5 linked regions of the Homo sapiens genome follow. The protein of the gene in region 3 interacts with the protein of the main gene of each other region in a pairwise test. Each region holds a gene or a part of one and is shown on either strand. Other genes may lie near its edges. The genes, in order: LMNA, STOML3, ZDHHC24, HSD17B11 and AGR2.

What was found.
Region 1: the proteins of ZDHHC24 (region 3) and LMNA interact in a two-hybrid assay, tested with the Homo sapiens proteins (one large-scale study listed by BioGRID).
Region 2: the proteins of ZDHHC24 (region 3) and STOML3 interact in binary tests that used the Homo sapiens proteins (3 or more experiments, as listed by UniProt).
Region 4: the proteins of ZDHHC24 (region 3) and HSD17B11 interact in binary tests that used the Homo sapiens proteins (3 or more experiments, as listed by UniProt).
Region 5: the proteins of ZDHHC24 (region 3) and AGR2 interact in binary tests that used the Homo sapiens proteins (3 or more experiments, as listed by UniProt).

What each region holds. Positions count from the first base shown.
Region 1 is NC_000001.11:156,128,211-156,131,710, reverse strand, and holds part of LMNA (lamin), read right to left. Parts: intron 1,885-3,500; exon of another isoform or gene 1,862-1,884; coding exon of another isoform or gene 1,803-1,861; intron 1,095-1,802; coding exon 938-1,094; intron 1-937.
Region 2 is NC_000013.11:38,988,018-38,992,300, forward strand, and holds the start of STOML3 (stomatin-like protein 3), read right to left. Parts: upstream 2,815-4,283; 5' UTR 2,705-2,814; coding exon 2,653-2,704; intron 1-2,652. UniProt on the Homo sapiens protein: Required for the function of many mechanoreceptors. Modulate mechanotransduction channels and acid-sensing ion channels (ASIC) proteins. Potentiates PIEZO1 and PIEZO2 function by increasing their sensitivity to mechanical stimulations.
Region 3 is NC_000011.10:66,536,034-66,539,556, forward strand, and holds part of ZDHHC24 (probable palmitoyltransferase ZDHHC24), read right to left. Parts: coding exon 3,496-3,523; 3' UTR 1-3,495. UniProt on the Homo sapiens protein: Probable palmitoyltransferase that could catalyze the addition of palmitate onto various protein substrates.
Region 4 is NC_000004.12:87,377,686-87,381,208, reverse strand, and holds part of HSD17B11 (estradiol 17-beta-dehydrogenase 11 precursor), read left to right. Parts: intron 1-3,523. UniProt on the Homo sapiens protein: Can convert androstan-3-alpha,17-beta-diol (3-alpha-diol) to androsterone in vitro, suggesting that it may participate in androgen metabolism during steroidogenesis.
Region 5 is NC_000007.14:16,794,987-16,798,509, forward strand, and holds part of AGR2 (anterior gradient protein 2 homolog precursor), read right to left. Parts: intron 2,709-3,523; coding exon 2,645-2,708; intron 34-2,644; coding exon 1-33. UniProt on the Homo sapiens protein: Required for MUC2 post-transcriptional synthesis and secretion. May play a role in the production of mucus by intestinal cells. Proto-oncogene that may play a role in cell migration, cell differentiation and cell growth. Promotes cell adhesion.

The sequences.
Region 1 (3,500 bases), on a different chromosome or scaffold from region 3:
ATAGGAGGCCCTTGTATACCGGAGGGCCAAACTGGGAGGGATCTAGGGTCAGGTACAGTTCATTGCAAAGTTAAGTAGAAATGGCTTGTGGATTATTTTATTTTATGTATTTATTTATGTAGAGACAGGGTTTCCCTCTGTCACCCAGGCTGAAGTGCAGTGGTGCAATCACAGCTCACTGTATCCTCGACCTCTCAGGTTCAAGCCATCCTCCTGCCTCAGCCTCCCAAGTAGCTGGGACTATAGGTGCACACCACCATGCCCAGCTAATTTCTTTAAATTTTTATTTTCTAGAGATGGGGTCTGTGTTGCCCAGGCTGGTCTCAAACTCCTGGACTCAAGCAATCCTGCCTCCTTGGCCTCCCAAAATGCTGGGATTACAGGCATGAGCCACCACACATGGCCTGGATTATTTTTATTATTATTATTATTATTTTTTTGAGACGGAGTCTCACTCTGTTGCCCAGGCTGGAGTGCAGTGGCATGATCTCAGCTCACTGCAAGCTCTGCCTCGCAGGCTCACGCCATTCTCCTGCCTCAGCCTCCCGAGTAGTTGGGACTACAGGCGCCCGCCACCATGCCAGGCTAATTTTTTGTATTTTTAGTAGAGACGGGGTTTCACCATGTTAGTCAGGATGATCTCGATCTCCTGACCTCGTGATCGGCCCACCTCGGCCTCCTAAAGTGCTGGGATTACAGGCGTGAACCACCATGCCCGGCCTCCTGGATTATTTTAAATTCACTGTGGTAGATCCCATTGGCAGCCAAATTAGGATAAGATGTGACCTCAGTGGGTAAAATGACTCTAGGACAGGTGAATGGCTCTGAAATCAGGTGACAGGTCAGACCAGGCACCACATGGGGGAGGGCCTAGGTAGAAGAGTGAGTGTACATGTGTTAGGTGGGGCCATGGGTGGGCCCTGCAGGGTGGCCTCACCTTGGCCACCTGGCCCCGCAGATCATGCAGCTCGCCCTCCAGCGTGCGCTTCTCACTGAGAGCAGTGCTCAGTGCGGCCTCCTTGGAGTTCAGCAGAGCCTCCAGGTCCTTCAGCCGAGCCTGAGCAGCTATCAGGTCACCCTCCTTCTTGGTATTGCTAAAGAAGAGAGGGGAGAGTAGATTTAAGAGAAGGAGTCTGTGTGCCTAGACAGTGCCAGGCTCCCAGGAGGTCAGCCATGGGGGCTGGCGCTGCTATGCCTGCAATTACCAGGAGAGGGCATCCTTGCATTAGGTTGGTTTGCATCTGCTTGCCTCTGGGGCTGGGCTCCCACCTCCCCAAGGTCCTTGAAAACCCCCTTCCTGCTTCTCCACCCTTCCCATGACTCAGGGCTCAGGAACGTGCCTGGGGCCAAGGGCAGAGCTCTACCCCGTGATATGAATGCTTTTCCCTCTCTCTCCTCCCATTCTTTCCCAAAGAGACAGGGGTACCTTTGTCTCCTGCCCCTTCCCACACAGGGCCTTACTTAGCCTTCTCCCTGGACTCTACTCACTTCCCTTTGGCCAAGCTTCCCTCCCTCTGAGGAGCCTGACAACTAAGCTCATGGCCCACATGTCCCTAGCACTTCTCGATCTGAGCCCCAAAGGTACTGGTCACCTCTCCTAGTCCCTTTTACACATGTGGGACTGTGGGGAAGGAAAGTCTGGTTAGAGCTCAGAGGGACCTCAGACAAGGATGACCAGGCACAATATTGACCCTTTCCTTTCTCAGGACCCAGTCTGGGTGCCCTGATCTGCACTGAACAGAGGGGTCCCTGCCTCCCTCCCTCCTGCCTCATCCGTGCCCTGGGAGAAGGCTGAGCCCTACCCATCTACCATAGCCTCAGCATCTGGTTCCAGATGTGGATCCCAGGCCTCCAGGTCCATCTGGGCCCCAGCTTTAAGCCTCCCTGCTCCTCAAAGTGGGTAAAGCTTTAGCTATAACCAGTCGAACAGCGCTGCCTCTGCCACCTCCCTCACCTTTTCTGGGCCCCTGATTATTTTTGCTAGTGGACTGGAGAAATAGAAAGGTCCTATTTTCTTAAAAACCTCCAGAGAACCCAAGAACTTTCTAGATGTTACAATTGCTTCACAAATATAGGGTGAGAGAAAGCAGCAGACCCAGGGAGCGGAGGGAAAGATCCAGAGGACCTGGTTCCAGCTGCCATCTGTAACTCATCAGTGCTTAAGCATGAGCCCACCACAGCAGATGGAAAAAAGGAAAACCAAGCGTGGGCAGAAGGAAAAATCTATCCTGGAAAGGAGAAAAGCAGCCCTGCCAACATTTTTCTTCTACCACAAAAGTCCTAAACTCCAAGAGGCCCAGCAATTCACTGTGAAGAGGGATAGGGAAGGCTAGATTTGCAGAAGCTCTGGAGGACGAGACCCAGGCAGTGTTCTGCTTAGGAGAGTCCAAAAAAGGAGTCACCCCCACCTCCCCCCACCAGGCAGGGAGGAGGATAGAGTGACACTCAGAGGGGCAGGGGAAGGACATGAGAAGCCAGAGGAAGCTCCCCCAGCCTGCACACTTGCTCAGTCCAGGCCTCTGGCCACACCTCAGAACAAGTTGTTTAATGTAAGTGTCTGTCTCCTGCAAAAAAGAGCCCCTTCCAGAACCGGAGAATGTATTCCCTCCTCTGTCTCAGTCAGAAAAGCTAAAAATAAAGTCAAAACCCAGCTCAGGTTTTGGCTGCCATCCGGCCTAGCCCCTGGCTGGGAGCACAGCCCCAACTTTCCATGACTTCAGAACTTTTCCGAAGCTGAAGCAGCTGCAGGGGGAGGAGGGAAAATGAAGAAAAACCGCTGGTAAAGTGAAGCAACTGGGGCAACTTAGATTCCGAGCTCCTTGGGCTGACCCCCAGGCTGGCTGGGGCTTCCCAGAAGAGGCCTCTCTACCCTGAAGGCTAATGGCTGCTGCTGGCTGTACTAGGAGGCTCTCAGAATTTAGAGAACTAGAAGGAGCTTAGAGTTGATTCAGCTCAACCCTCTCCCTTTTATAGATGAGGAAACTGAGGTGCAAAGGAGGAAGGTGAATGGCCCAGTGTCAATTACCGAAAGCCAGCAGCAGCATTCCAGTCAATTCTAGCTGCTGATCTAGGGTTCCTCCTCCTCCACCTCACTGCTTTCCTAAGCCACAAGTTCCAGAGAGAATGGAGAAGCCAGGAGGAGGAAGAGGGCAGACACTATGGCACAAAGCGTTTCCCTGACCAGCCAGCCTGAGCTGAAAGAAGCTGGAAGGCAATGGGATGATTTCAGAAGGTGTCTCAAGGGCACCTTTTCCCTAGTCCTGTCTCCCCAGCCTCCTTAGGTGCCAGGAGGAATTCCTGGAGTTCCCCCTGGTAACAGCCTTTCCTTGCCAGTGCCTGGCAGACACTGACTGAGGAAAACATAGATGCATGATCCCTGTGCTCTGCGAGCTTATGGGCTGATGAGCACAGAAGTTTTTTCTTCAGTCTAACCTCTTCACCTTCTGCTGCTTGCAAAAGCGGTGGTGGCAGTGATAATAATAATATAATAGCAAACACTT
Region 2 (4,283 bases), on a different chromosome or scaffold from region 3:
ATAATATATTATATTTTATATCATATATTTTATATATAATATATTATATTTTATATCATATATTTTATATATAATATGTTATATTTTATATCATATATTTTATATATTATATTTTATATCATATATTTTATATCATATATTTTATATATAATATATTATATTTTATATAAAATATATTATATTTCATATAAAATATATGATATTTTATATCATATATTTTATATATAATATATTATATTTTATATCATATATTATATATAAAATATATTATATTTTATATCATATATTTTATATATAATATATTATATTTTATATATAATATATTATATTTTATATCATATATTTTATATAATATATTATATTTTATATCATATATTTTATATAAAATATATGATATTTTATATCATATATTTTATATAAAATATATTATATTTTATATCATATATTTTATATATAATATATTTTATATCATATATTTTATATATAATATATTTTATATCATATATTTTATATATAATATATTTTATATCATATATTTTATATATAATATATTTTATATCATATATTTTATATATAATATATTATATATCATATATTTTATATATAATATATTATATTTTATATCATATATTTTATATATATTATATATTGAAATTTTATATATTTGATATCAAACACATCATTAAAAAGGTGAAAAAATAAGTGACAACTGGAAAAACATATTTGCCACTTATGTGCTGTCAGGTATATCAAGTATTCATAAGTACATATTACAAGTTATATATTATAGTATATAGTATATATAATTATATATACTATAATACATAATATATATTATATATGCTGTATTATATAATATATATTATTACATATTATATACTATACTATAGAATACATAATATATATACTATATTATACAATATATTATATATACTATATTACACAATATATTATATATACTATATTACATAATATATATCATACATTATATACTATATTATATAAGATATATGTTATATATGTTATATTGTATTATATATATTTTTTATATATATCTGAGTTGCAAGGGCAAACTTAGTCCACAGATCTCAGAGAATGGTCCACACTGTATCTCTCCTAAAAAACTACAAAAGCACAGGAAATCAGACATTGCAAATATATCAGCCCCATTTTGTTCATTCTGTGATAGTGCCAGTTTTTCATATTCAAATATCGAAACCAAGAAAACTCATGAGTACTTTCAAGAATCTCACTGATGATACAGCTTCAGTCATGCCATCTACCCAGTTGATGTCTTCACCTGTTAAAATGGAAACTAAATGTCTCATGAAGGATAAATAAGGGGACTCTTGAGATCTCCCGCTTGCATTTCCAGATGATATTTACTGCCTTCAAGCTTTTCATGCCTACTTCAAAAGAAAAGTTTCTTTTCCAATTCAGGTAAATGTCTCTAAATGTATACTTTTTCTTTTTTCTTTCTTTATTCCATTTTTTTTTCTTTGTTAGGCAGGGTCTCACTCTGTCACCCAGGCTGGAGTACAGTGGTGCAATCTCAGCTCACTGAAGCCTAAACCTCCTGGGCTCAAGCAATCCTCCCACCTCAACCTCCCACTTAGCCACAGGCATGTGCCACCACACCTGGCTAAATTTTGTATTTTTTGTAGAGATGAGTTTTTGCCATTTTGCCCAGGCTGGTCTCGAACTCCTGAGCTCAAGTGATCTGCCTGCCTTGGCCTTCCAAAGTGCTGCGATTACAGGGCATGCACCAGTGCATGCAGCCTAGTTTTTTCTTTTATGTATTAGTAATGCCAAACGTGTTCTCTATTTCTAACATGTACTATGGCTTTTTTGGCAACATAAGGTACAGAGCACAGGTTAGGTCATACACACACGCACACTCACACCATCATCACACACACACACACGCACACCATCATCATAATCACTTTCTGAACAACTTTTTAAACTTTCCAATGCTCAGTTTTCTCATTTGTAAAATGAGATTCTAAGAGGATCTACCTCAGAATTATTGTAAAATTGAAAGAGATAATGCAAGCAAAATGCTTTGTAACACATAATAGTCATTAGTATTAATGATAGTAGTTGGTACTTATAAGCTAAGTTTTTTTTCTCAACTTCTCTCCATTTATCAAACAGGATACAGCTCAAACCAACTTTTCTTTTTAATCTCAGCATCATCAGAAAATGTTTGAAGTTGGAGAAAAGTCAGCCTCTTCAACATATCTTTGTTATTTAATACAAAAAGAAGAAATACAAAGATAAACACCAATTCTATCTAAAATTGAATGAAAAATAAAGCAAGTTATAGACTGCTGTTCAAGAAGCAAATGAAATCAGCATAAGCAATGAATTCAAAATCCTGAGAAGGATTTCATACAGAAAGAAGAAATTCAAAGATAAACACCAACTTTATCTAAAATTGAAGGAAAAATAAAGCAAGTTATAGACTGCCGTTCAAGAAGCAAATGAAATCAGCATAAGCAATGAATTCAAAATCCTGGGCTATAAATGAAATTGAGGCCGATTTCTGCAAATATATCTCATACTTACTCTATACCTGTCTATAATGCTACAACTCCTGCTTTGCCATATATGTAAAAAACAAGCCTAAGACAGGAAAAAGGAACTTACCCACGAAATTCTCTTTATCTTGCTTCTCAGGTGAAGACACCCTAGAATCCATCTCATTCTTGAGAAGCTTTTATACTTGGCAATTTTTCATGGGTTTGGAGCTAAGTGTGAAGAACAGGCAGCAACTCAGATGTGCTTGGGAGAGGGGAGAGGAGAAAGTATGAGAGAGTGAAAGACATTCCTTCTCTTTAGTGAACTCCCTAAGGGGTAGTTACCCTGGTGAGGGAAGCCTGATAACATAAACAAAAAGATTTCTTTTATGAGTTCAGACTGCCTTTGTTCACAGAAAAAACTTGAAAGAATATGACCATCTGGTGGTATTGCTTCCTGTAAAATATTGCTGTGTAATTTTCTATAGCATTTATATTTCATAAAACACTTCTATGCACCTTGTATAAATCTTGTGTGATCACTGATTACACAATGACCTGTTCAATACACAGGGCAAGTGTATCCATCCTTATGTTTCAGATGAGAAAATTTAACCCAACTCATTCTAACACTGCAGTGAGTGAGCTTTTGAAACTCAAATCTGATCATGTCTTCATCCTGCTTAAAATAATCAAAAAATTGCCAACTGTCAATATTGTAAAGACCAAACTCCTAAGTGTCCTACAAGACCCTGCTGGCCTGCCCCTTCCTCCCTTTCCAGCCTCACTCATGTGTCTCTCCGTGAAGCAGCTCCATTGGTCTCCTATCAGTGCCTCCAAAGCTTGATATGTCTTCTCGCCACCGGATCTTTGCACGTGTTATCATATGCATAATTTTTTGGCTTGTGTCTGTTTCTTCTTCTAGACCAAGAATTGACAAACTTTAGCTTGCCAGCTAAATTTAATTTACCACTTGTTTTTAAAACATAAAGTGTTATTGGAACACAGTATGTCCTTTTGTTGCTTTCTTTTTTTTTTTTTTTTTTTTGAGATAGGATTTCACTCTGTTGCCCAGGCTGGAGTGCAGTGGCACAATCACAGCTCACTGCAATCTCGACCTGCCAGGCTCAAGCAATCTTCCTACCTCAGCCTCTTCAACAGCTGGGACTCCAGGTGCACACCACCATACCTGGCTAATTTTTAATTTTTTTTTTTTTTAGAGATGGGGCCTCACTATATTGCCCAGGCTGGTCTCAAACTCTGGGCTCAAATGATCCTTCAGCCTTGGTCTCCCAAACTGCTGGGATTGTAGATATGAGCCACCATGCCCAGCTCTTTCATTTTTGTATTGTCTGTGCTCACTTTTGCACTGCACCCGTGGATTTGAGTAGTTGTGACACAGACCATACAAGCTGTAAGGCCTAAAATATTTACTGTTTGTCCCTTCACAAAAAAAGTTTGCTGACCCCTGCCTTGCACTATACATTTCCATGAGGAGAGTGACTTGGTCTAACATTTCCATTGCATCTGCAACAATTAGAACAACGTGGGCACATGATTGATGTTCAACAATACTTGCTGAATGAATGAATATATAAATCACAAATGAAAACAGCTCTCAAATGGCAAAGCTCTTTCTCAAATCCAGATCCTTAGGATCCTGTACTAGGATTCCTTCTTTCATCAGACCACATAGAACCACAGACAATTTTGTGGTTATTCCAATACTAAGAACACCAATTTTCTAATTTTCTGATGTTC
Region 3 (3,523 bases):
CTGCATGATTTCATTCATATATTTGAAAACATGCAAAGCCAACACAAACACATTAATAAAACTATAAAGCAAAGCAACGGAATGACTGAAACAGGACAGTGTCTCCCCCACCAGGAAGGGGCAACAGCAGGAACTTCGAAGGAAATGGTAACCTTCTCAAATGCAGTGGGGCTGTTTCCTCTTAATTTTTATAAATGTGTTCTTGTAGCTCCTCACTAATTAAAAACAACAACAACAACGAGTCCAGGCATGGTGGCTCACACCTGTAATCCCAGCACTTTGGGAGGCCAAGGTGGGCAGATCACCTGAGGTCAGCAGTTCAAGACCAGCCTGACCAACATGGTGAAACTCCATCTCTACAAAAGTACAAAATTTAGCAGGGCATGATGGTGGGTGCCTGCAATCCCAGTTACTTGGGAGGCTAAGGCAGGAGAATCGCTTGAACCCAGGAAGTGAGCCAAGATCGCGCCATTGCACTCCAGCTTGGGCAACAGAGAGACTCCATCTCGAAAAATAAAACAAAACACACAAAAAAACATGAAAATAAGATATTGTGGGCTGGGCGCAGTGGCTCATACCTGTAATCCCGGCACTTTGGGAGGCCGAGGCAGGTGGATCACCTGAGGTCAGGAGTTCCAGACCAGCCTGACCAACATGGAGAAACCCCGTCTCTACTAAAAATACAAAAACAATTAGCCGGGCATGGTGGCACATGCCTGTAATCCCAGCTACCGAGAGGCTGCAGCAGGAGAATCGCTTGAACCCGGGAGGCGGAGGTTTCGGTGAACCAAGATCGCATCATTGCACTCCAGCCTGGGTAACAAGAGTGAAACTCTGTCTCAAAAAATAAAAAGAGAAAGAAAGAAAATAAGAAATTGTGGAGGGCGAGGGATGAAACAGGACAAGGTGAGTCTGCTAATGCGTCTGTGCAGCCCAAAGTGCCAGGTACACCAAGTTCCTCCTGTCATTAAAAAATAGCAACAGAGCATGCCTGTTACAAAAACAACCAGCCAAGCAGCTCAGATCTTTGTGGGCATGGGCAGAGCCTGTCAGAGGGTGGGTTTCTCTGAAGGTTCTTGGGGGTCAAGCATGTTCTTTCATGGGAGGCCCCCCAGCAGTATCTATGGACTTTCACTTAACCCCATTTTTTGGTCTAGCCTCTCACCCACCCCTCCCCAGTACGCCTAAGACCCGAAGCTTCTCTGGTTCCATTTATCCTTCAAATAATCCTCACGTCACACCACCCCACCCAGAGGTGTAGCTGCTGGCTGCATGATGTGGGTGGGGTGTGGGTGGGATGTGGGGGAGCGGCACCCCACTGATCCTTACATAGACTTTCCATCGGTCCCCATTGTTGGCCGAAGCCTCACCTCACCCTCCATGGTCCTGGTGGAGTTCCTGAGCCCCTCCGGGGCTCTGGCAGGTAATTCCACTTGCCTTTTGGCCCCACCTTTTGGGAACACATAATTTCAGCTCTTAATTCTCCATCCACTTTCCATCTTTGAAAATGTCAGCCAGGCGGCCGGGCACGGTGGCTCACACCTGTAATCCCAGCACTTTGGGAGGCCAAGGCGGGCAGATCACGAGGTCAGTAGATCAAGACCATCCTGGCCGGCCAGGAGTGGTGGCTCACACCTGTAATCCCAGCACTTTGGGAGGCCGAGGCAGGTGGATCACAAGGTCAGGAGATCGAGACCATCCTGGCTAACACGGTGAAACCTCGTCTCTACTAAAAATACAAAAAATTAGCTTGGCGTGGTGGCAGGCACCTGTAGTCCCAGCTACTTGAGAGGCTGAGGCAGGAGAATGGCGTGAACCCAGAAGGCGGAGCTTGCAGTGAGCCGAGATCGTGCCACTGCACTCCAGCCTGGCAACAGAACAAGAGTCTGTCTCAAATAAAATAAAATAAAATAAAATAAAATAAAATAATAAAAAATTGTCAGCCAGGCACGGTAGCTCACGCCTGTAATCCTAGCACTTTGGGAGACGGAGGTGGAGGCAGGTGCCAGGAATTCAAGTTCAGCCTGGCCAACATGGTGAAACCCTGTCTATACTAAAAATACAAAAAAATTAGCTGGGCATGGCCAGGCGCAATGGCTCACACCTGTAATTCCAGCACTTCGGGAGGCCAAGGCGGGCGGATCACAAGGTCACGAGTTTGAGACCTGCCTGGCCAACATGGTGAAACCCCCGTCTCTACTAAAAATACAAAAATTAGCCAGGAATGGTGGCGGGCACCTGTAATCCCAGCTACTCGGGAGGCTGAGGCAGGAGAATCGCTTGAACCCAGGAGGCGGAGGTTGCAGTGAGCCGAGATCACGCCATTGCACTCCTGCCTGAGCAACAAGAGCAAAACTCCGTCTCAAAAAAGAAAAAAAAAAAAATCAGCCGGGCATAGTGGCGGGTGTCTGTAATCCCAGCAACTCGGGAGGCCGAATCACTTGAACCCGGGAGGTGGAGGTTACAGTGAACCGAGATCGTGCCACTGCACTCCAGCCCCGGCAACAGAGAGAAAAAAGAAAATGTGGTCAGGCTCTGTGTTCTACTGTCTTCCCTCCTGTTTTCTTTCCCTTTGTATTATTTTTGATTTTCTTTACTATCATCTTAGAGAGATCCTAAGAGAAAACTGAGACGAACACATGTGTTTAGGCCTGCCATGTGGAAATGGCGGTCTCTATTCATTCTATTTACACGGAAACATTTAACAAGCAGCTCTTGAGGAGGCCAGAGAGGTGCAGGCCTAGCCCTGTCAGCACCACCCTCCACAGATGCCCAAACAGCCCCAGCGCATTTCTTTACCTTGATTTCTTTCCTACTCATTTCCTCCAGCTGTGCAAGGGTAAAGGCAAAAGCACAAAGACCTGGGTTGGACCCTGCCTCCATTTGCCGCACCATGATCTTACCACATGGATTCTTAGAGCGTAACTGCTGCCCCATGGACCAGGTTAGCTAAGAGAGGTTCCATGAAACTGCTGTTGCAGAAATGCTTCTAACTATAAAATGCCAAACCTGGGAAAGAATGTTTGGATTCTCATAGCCTGGATCAGTAGGACACTGCCTTGGCGTGCTGGTGCCCCACCCCCAACTCACCCAGGCCAGGGGAGGTAGAGCCCCAGCCCCTGAGACCCTCAGGCATCCTGCAGTTTCCAGGCCCTACAGAGGGTCCCAGAAACAGCCCCAGCAACAAAGTGAGGGGCCAGAAACTATGCAAAGATGGAGGGAGGCTGAGAAACAAGTCAGTGCTTTATTAACCTGGCAAAGGGGCAGCTAGGCGGCCTGAGCAGCCCCTGCCAGACCCTCCTCTGCACTCCTCTGCCTAAGTCACGGCCCAAGCCCTGGACACGTAGGAGTGTAGGCGGGCAGGGGCAAGGCCAAGGAAGGGGTGGAGTTGTCCAATGCAGATGTTAAGGTCCAACCCGACTTCCTTACTGAGTCTAGGTGTGGGGGCCCCCCTCTCACCCCTTCCTCCCTGCACAGCTCTGGCTCTTCCTGGAGTCAGGAGGCTGTGTGTCCCACATCTGCT
Region 4 (3,523 bases), on a different chromosome or scaffold from region 3:
CTTTTTTTTTTTTTTTTTTTTTGAAATGGAGTCTCACTCTGTCGCCCAGGCTGGAGTGCAGTGGCGTGATCTCAGCTCACTGCAAGCTCCACCTCCCGGGTTCACAAGCGATTCTCCTGCCTCAGCCTCCCTAGTAGCTGTGATTACAGGCACGCACCATCATGCCGGGCTAATTTTTGTGTTTTTGTAGAGATGGGGTTTCACTATGTTGGCCAGGGTGGTCTGGTCTGGAACTCCTGACCTCAAGTGATCCACCCTCCTTGGCCTCCCAAAGTGCTGGGATTACACGCGTGAGCCACCACACCTGGCCTGAGTTCTTTTTTTTTTTTTTTTTTTTTTTTTTTTGAGATAGAGTCTAGCTCTAGCTTTGTCGCCCAGGCTGGAGTGCAGTGGTGCGATCTCGGCTCACTGCAAGCTCCGCCTCCCGGGTTCACCCCATTCTCCTGCCTCAGCCTCCGGAGTAGCTGGGATTACAGGCGCCCGTCACCACGCTTGGCTAATTTTTTTGTATTTTTAGTAGAGACGGGATTTCACCGTGTTAGCCAGGATGGTCTGTATCTCCTGACCTCGTGATCTGCTCCCTCGGCCTCCAAAAGTGCTGGGATTACAGGCGTGAGCCACCGCGCCTAGCCCATTATCAGATATTTTGAAGTAGCTATTTTGAGGTGGCCATTTTAGTATCAGAACTTTTTTTCTTTTTCTCTTTTCTTTTCTTTTTTCTTTTTTTTTTTTTTTTTTGAGACAGTCTTGCTCTGTTGCCCAGGCTGCAGTGTAGTGGTGTGATCTTGGCTTACTGCAACCTCCGCCTCCTGGGTTCAAGCAGTTCTCCTGCCTCAGCCTCTCGAGTAGCTGGGATTACAGATGCCCGCCACCACGCATGGCTAATTTTTGTATTTTTAGTAGAGACGGGCTTTCACCATGTTAGCCAGGATGGTCTCGATCTCCTGACCTCGCGATCCGCCTGCCTTGGCCTCCCAAAGTGCTGGGATTTGTATATTTCTTAATAATGAAAGCAAGCTGAGAATCAGATATTTTGAAGTAGCTGTTTTGAGGTGGCCATTTTAGTATCATTTTAGTATCAGAACGTTTTTTTTTTTTGAGACAGAGTCTTGCTCTGTTACCCAGGCTGGAGTGTAGTGGCGTGATCTTGGCTCACTGCAACCTCCGCCTCCTGGGTTCAAGCAATCTTCCTGCCTCAGCCTCTCGAGTAGCTGGGATTACAGGCAGATACCTGTAATATATATATACAGGCTGATAAATATTATATACTTATATAGTATATATAAATATATAATATAATATGTATATATGAGATGTGCTGTATAATAATAATTAATAGTATAATACATATACATATACATATATAATAGTATAATACATATACTATTAATACTATAATACTATAGTATATTATACTATAATATACTATTACTATATTATACTGTTATACTATATTATACTATAGTATACTAATAATAGTATATACTATTATTATATACTAATATAATAGTATAGTATACTAATACTATATTATACTATTAATATATAATATACATACATATACATATAATATGTGTAATATAATACATATATGTATATATGAGTTGTGCTGTATATAATGCTGTGTATGTATATATGAGATGTATATGTAGATGTATATGTATATAATGCTGTATATGTATATATGTACATATTATATATGTATATATAATATATATTATATAATATAAATATAACAATATAAATATTATATATATATCCAGGAATCTGCCCAAGTAATTCTGATGACCTTGTTGACATTAAGGTAGTTAGTTAGGTACAAGCAAGAATGCGTTCAGAGTGAAACCCCATTATATACAGCACATCTCAATTGTATCTAGAAGAGGCAAATAATGCTTTATAGAAATATATCTGCTGGAGCGTGGCTTATGCCTAGAATCCCAGCACTTTGGGAGGCCGAGGTGGGTGGATCCCCTGAGCTCAGGAGTTCGAGATCAGCCTGGGCAACATGGTCACCTGAAGTCAGGAGTTCAAGACCAGCCTGGCCAATATGATGAAACCCTGTCTCTATAAAAATGCAAAAATTAGCTGGGCATGATGGCAGGTGCCTGTAATCCCAGCTACTTGGGAGGTTGAGGTGAGAGAATCACTTGAACCTGGGAGGCGGAGGTTGTAGTGAGCTGAGATCATGCCACTGCACCCCAGCCTGGACAACAGAGCAAGACACCATCTCAAAAAAAAAAAAAAATATATATATATAAATATATATATATATATATTTATATATATTTATATATATATATTTATATATATTTATATATATATATTTATATATATATATTTATATATATTTATATATATATTTATATATATATATTTATATATATATTTTATATTTATATATATATATAAAATCATATATATATACACGCAAAACATATTCTCTCTTATTTGAGAGAGCTAAAAATTAAAATAATCGAACTCTTGGAGATAGAGAGTAGAAGGATGGTTACCAGAGGCTGGGAAGGGTAGAGGTGGTGTAGGGAAGAAGTAGGGATGGTTAATGGGTACCAAAAATTAGAACAAATAGGCTACTCTGGTTGCACTGCCTGTGAGTTAGCCCTGCTCTGCAAGGAGCAGCCATAAAGAATTTTTTGTTAGTAAAAATGATTAATAATAGTAATTTAATTGTACATTTTAAAATAACTAAAAGTATAATTGGATTGTTTGTAACACAAAGGGTAAATGCTTGAGGGGATGGATACCTGATTTACCCTGATGTGATAATTATGCACTGCATGCCTGTATCAAAATGTCTCATGTAACCTTGAATATATACACTACTATGTACCCACAAAAATTTAAAAACAAAATTAATACAAAAAAATACAAAACAGACATTCATATCCTGGGGAGGTAATAGGCAATGATGAAGAAAGGGTCAAGAGTGTCTGGGAAAATCCTTTGGTAATATAAAATAGTATATAGGTATAAATGGTGTTGATCAGGGTCAAAAAACTTAGCTTGACACTTTACTAACGTAAATATAATCTGATGAAATTCAATTCTGACTGAAGAGCCTTCAGCATGGCAGATTGATGCCCTACAGGAGTACTGGTAGACTTTTGCCCATGGCCTCCTTTCTGTTTGGGGTGGCTTGTCTTGGGCTCTGACGTCAGACAGATCTGGGAGAGTCCCAGCTCCATCTTTTAATAGCCATGTGACCTTGGGTATGAAACTCAACCATTCTGTTTCATGTTTTCATCTTTAAAGTGAGCATATAAGAATTGCTGTCTCATTGAGTTACTGTGAGAATTCAATAAGAAAAATAATGAAATCATGTAAATGCATAACAAAGTAAAAGCCCCTCATAGGCTATTTGCCACTTTTCCCTCAGTCCCCCAACACACTGTAGCACTATCTCTAAATAATGATAACTCTGTTAATAGAGCTAGGTTTCATTTGAAACACAGTGTATAACAAAATGCATTAGGACGCTAGGGTCTATCCGCCCAAGCATCTT
Region 5 (3,523 bases), on a different chromosome or scaffold from region 3:
CAGTGATATCGGCTCTAACTGTCAGAGATGGGTCTGCAAAGATAAATGAAGCAAAAGGGAATGGAATGGTTTGTTTTCAAACAACCTGTATTTATTGCCCCGGGGAGCTGAAGTTCATGTATTCATGTCCTGTGAGGGAATGGAGTGTGTCTGCACTCACAGGAGCTCTGATCCATCCACTCTACTACCCAGCCCCTGGCAGTTAGTAGCAAATGCAGGGCTGGAAACATCAACAGCTGTGCAGTGCTATTTGTGGAAAAGGTTATGAACCCTTCTGTTCTATCTATGGCAACCTGAAAACAGAATAATATATATTTAGGGGTGACATGGTGTTTTTTTTTTTTTTGGTGAAAACATTAACATTCTCTACTGCAAAATTATTTTAAATTCTTGAAACGATTATGTTGTAGTTTACATGTTTCTAGATCATTGGAAACCCACATCCAATGCTAGTTTTCAAAACGAGTTTTTTAAAAAAAGTTAATAGAGGAATGCAAGTCCTTAACAACAGCAAAGTTCAAATAAGCATATAGTACCTTCACTATATTTTACTTTATTGTTAATTAACTGCATTTTTAAAAGTAGAGATTGGTCTTCTCTTATGTATACTTATATCCCTCTAAATTTAAATCCATCTTGCCATGTTTTGTATTTAACTTGAAGTGATCTAATTAATGAGAAAAAGAGGTATTTTAAAATTAAGGTGCATCCAAAAGGGAAGCGTGAGGATACAGAGAGATCTGGAAACCTTGCCTTGAGAGACGTAATCGAAAGAACCTAGGACACGTGCCCTGAAAATGAGACAAGGAAGACATGTGAGAACCATCTGCATGTTTGCAAAGTCTGTCGCTGGTACTGGAGTGGGCAATCTGTCATTTCAGAATGTTGGACTAAGGCCAGACACATAAATTACAAGAAGCAGATGTACATTTATTCACCAGATTTAAGACCAACTATACTTCTGTTTGGTGCAGAGGATACAAAGACACGGTCTAATCTTTGTAAGAAATTAACCTAAGAAGGGCTTTTTAAATACCCAACTAGCAGCTCACCTGGCTGCACATTGGAATCATCTGGAGAGCTGTAAACACTATGGATGCCTGCCTCCCACCCCCAGAGATTCTGATTTAATTGGTTTGAGGTGTGGCCTGGGCAACTTGATCTTTAAAATCCTCCAGGTGATTCAAACATGTAGTCAGGGTGGCTACTACGGAGCTAGAAGAGCAAGCTGCCTTGGAGCTGGTTCTTAGGACTGAAGGAATTGAATGTGGGTTAAAATGCCCTTCCACAGGGATGCTGTACAAAGAATTCCTGTACAAGGTATGAACAGACATCTATAAATTCCCTTTTAATGTTAGGATTCCAAATGTCCTAAATTCTGACAAAACTAAACCTATAAAATTAGTGCTTTAGTTCAGCCTTCTTCCTTTTTTTCTATTTCTTGTTTTTCTTTTCCCTGCTTTGTACATTCAGTGTAAACTTTTAATGAATTACACAGGTGAATCATATGATTAGCATGAATTGTTGTAAGTGATGGATTTCATTATGGATTGTCCTTAAATCAGTATGACTTTGAACAAAGCCAAACTCAGTACATTCATTCAATAATTAAACACATATTGATGGAGAGCCTACTGCAGGGTCACGTTGGGAATATCATGGTGAGCAGAAATAGGTACAGTCCCTGCCATAGGGGCTTATAGTCCAATGTGGGAAATATTTATTACATAACCACCCCCAAACTGCAAAATTATACCTGAGGAAAGTATGACTACAAGAGCACATAGTAGGGATTTGACTCGGTCAATGAATAATGATGATTGGGGAGTTAATGATGTGAAATTGGGGGACAGAGAAGGAAGTGGGGAAAGCATATGAAAAGTACCAGTGGCAGGAAGGAGCATGTGGCTCCTTTCATTTCTTTTTCCCACCTCATATTCCTTTTTTTTTTTTGAGACAGAATCTCGCTCTGTTGCCCAGGCTGGAGTGCAGTGGTGCCATCTCGGCTCACTGCAACCTCTGCCTCTTGGGTTCAAGCAATTCTTGTGCCTCAGCCTCCCAGGTAGCTGGGATTACAGGCTCCTGCAACCACGCCTGGCTAATTTTTTTTTTGTATTTTTTAGTAGAGATGGGGTTTCACCTTGTTGGCCAGGCTGGTTTGGAGCTCCTGACCTCAAGTGATCTGCCGGCCTTGGCCTCCCAAAGTGCTAGGATTACAGGCGTGAGCCACCCAGCCTTATTCCTAACTTTCTTAAAAATAATGATAAAAAATGTCAGAAAAATCTAACACACAAAGTGAAAGTTTGCTGGATTAAAAAATAAATATTTGCAGGCCTCTCGTATTCAGGAAATTTATCAATATGTTTAAATAGTGAATAGGGTGCTTTGTTCTCAGAAGTATTATAGCAGAAGATGAAAAGTTACAATTAGCATGTGAGAAAAGAAAGTGTTGTGTGGAAATAGGTAAAAGCTCACATTTTCTAAAGAAAATATGTTGCGGAACTTAAAGGAATGTCATGCTCCTTGCTAGAGCTTAGTGATGACATTGGCCATGGCAACGTGGCAAGGGACAGTGGGGAGGAGAGAAGGAGGATGGCAGCACTAGTATGTGTTTCCGAGTTATCTCACTGTCACTTCCGCTTACCAACAAACATAATCCTGGGGACATACTGGCCATCAGGAGAAAGGTGTTTGTCAGTTGTTTCATACTAAAATAAAAAGAAAAGCATCTTTTAGTTTACTTTGACTTTTCAGTCGTTTTCAAACTTGTTAATACAAGAATCTGTCCATTTCCGGCCAGGCATCTCAAGATATCATAACTCTTCCACACAGAGTTTATTGTACAGATGAGGAGACAAGTTACAAGCATGAAATAATAAATAAGATAGAGCAGAACATGAGATAAAGTGCTGAATGGATGTGATAAAGAGCAAAAAAATTAAGGGAGAATTTGGAAGGAGTTACTGTGTTTGGGGAAGACATCTGGGATGAAATAAGAGGCTATTAAGGAAAAAAGCAGATGTCATTTCTAGAGAAATTACGGAGACAAGTACGGGATTTTCTTGAGTATTCATTTATCCATTTATCAATTTTTATTTAGAACTGTATTTAGCAAGGCATGGTGCTTATCTTTAATGAATGCACACTCTATTGAGAGATACAGGTAGGAAAATGAATATTGAGGATGCAGTGGGTGAAATGTTACGGTGTAGGATATGCAGGTTTGGTGATTGCCTTGAGCAAGACATTTAGCCCAGAATGCAGATTCCACCCCGACTAGGACTTTCTGAAGTGGATAAGGAGGAATCTTTACAAATGAACAGGAGTCAGTTAGGTGGAAAAGAAAGACACTTCATGCAGGGGGAAGAGTATGGAGAGGACAGGTGGAGCATTTTCTCCTATGGCCAAGTGCTGGGGAAGGACTGAGTTGGGGGGATGCACGAGGGCAGTGGCGAAAGAAGGTGCTAGAGCTGCTTCAGGGGCCGGCTTAGGAATGACTTTGCACACCATGCCATAGTGTTTT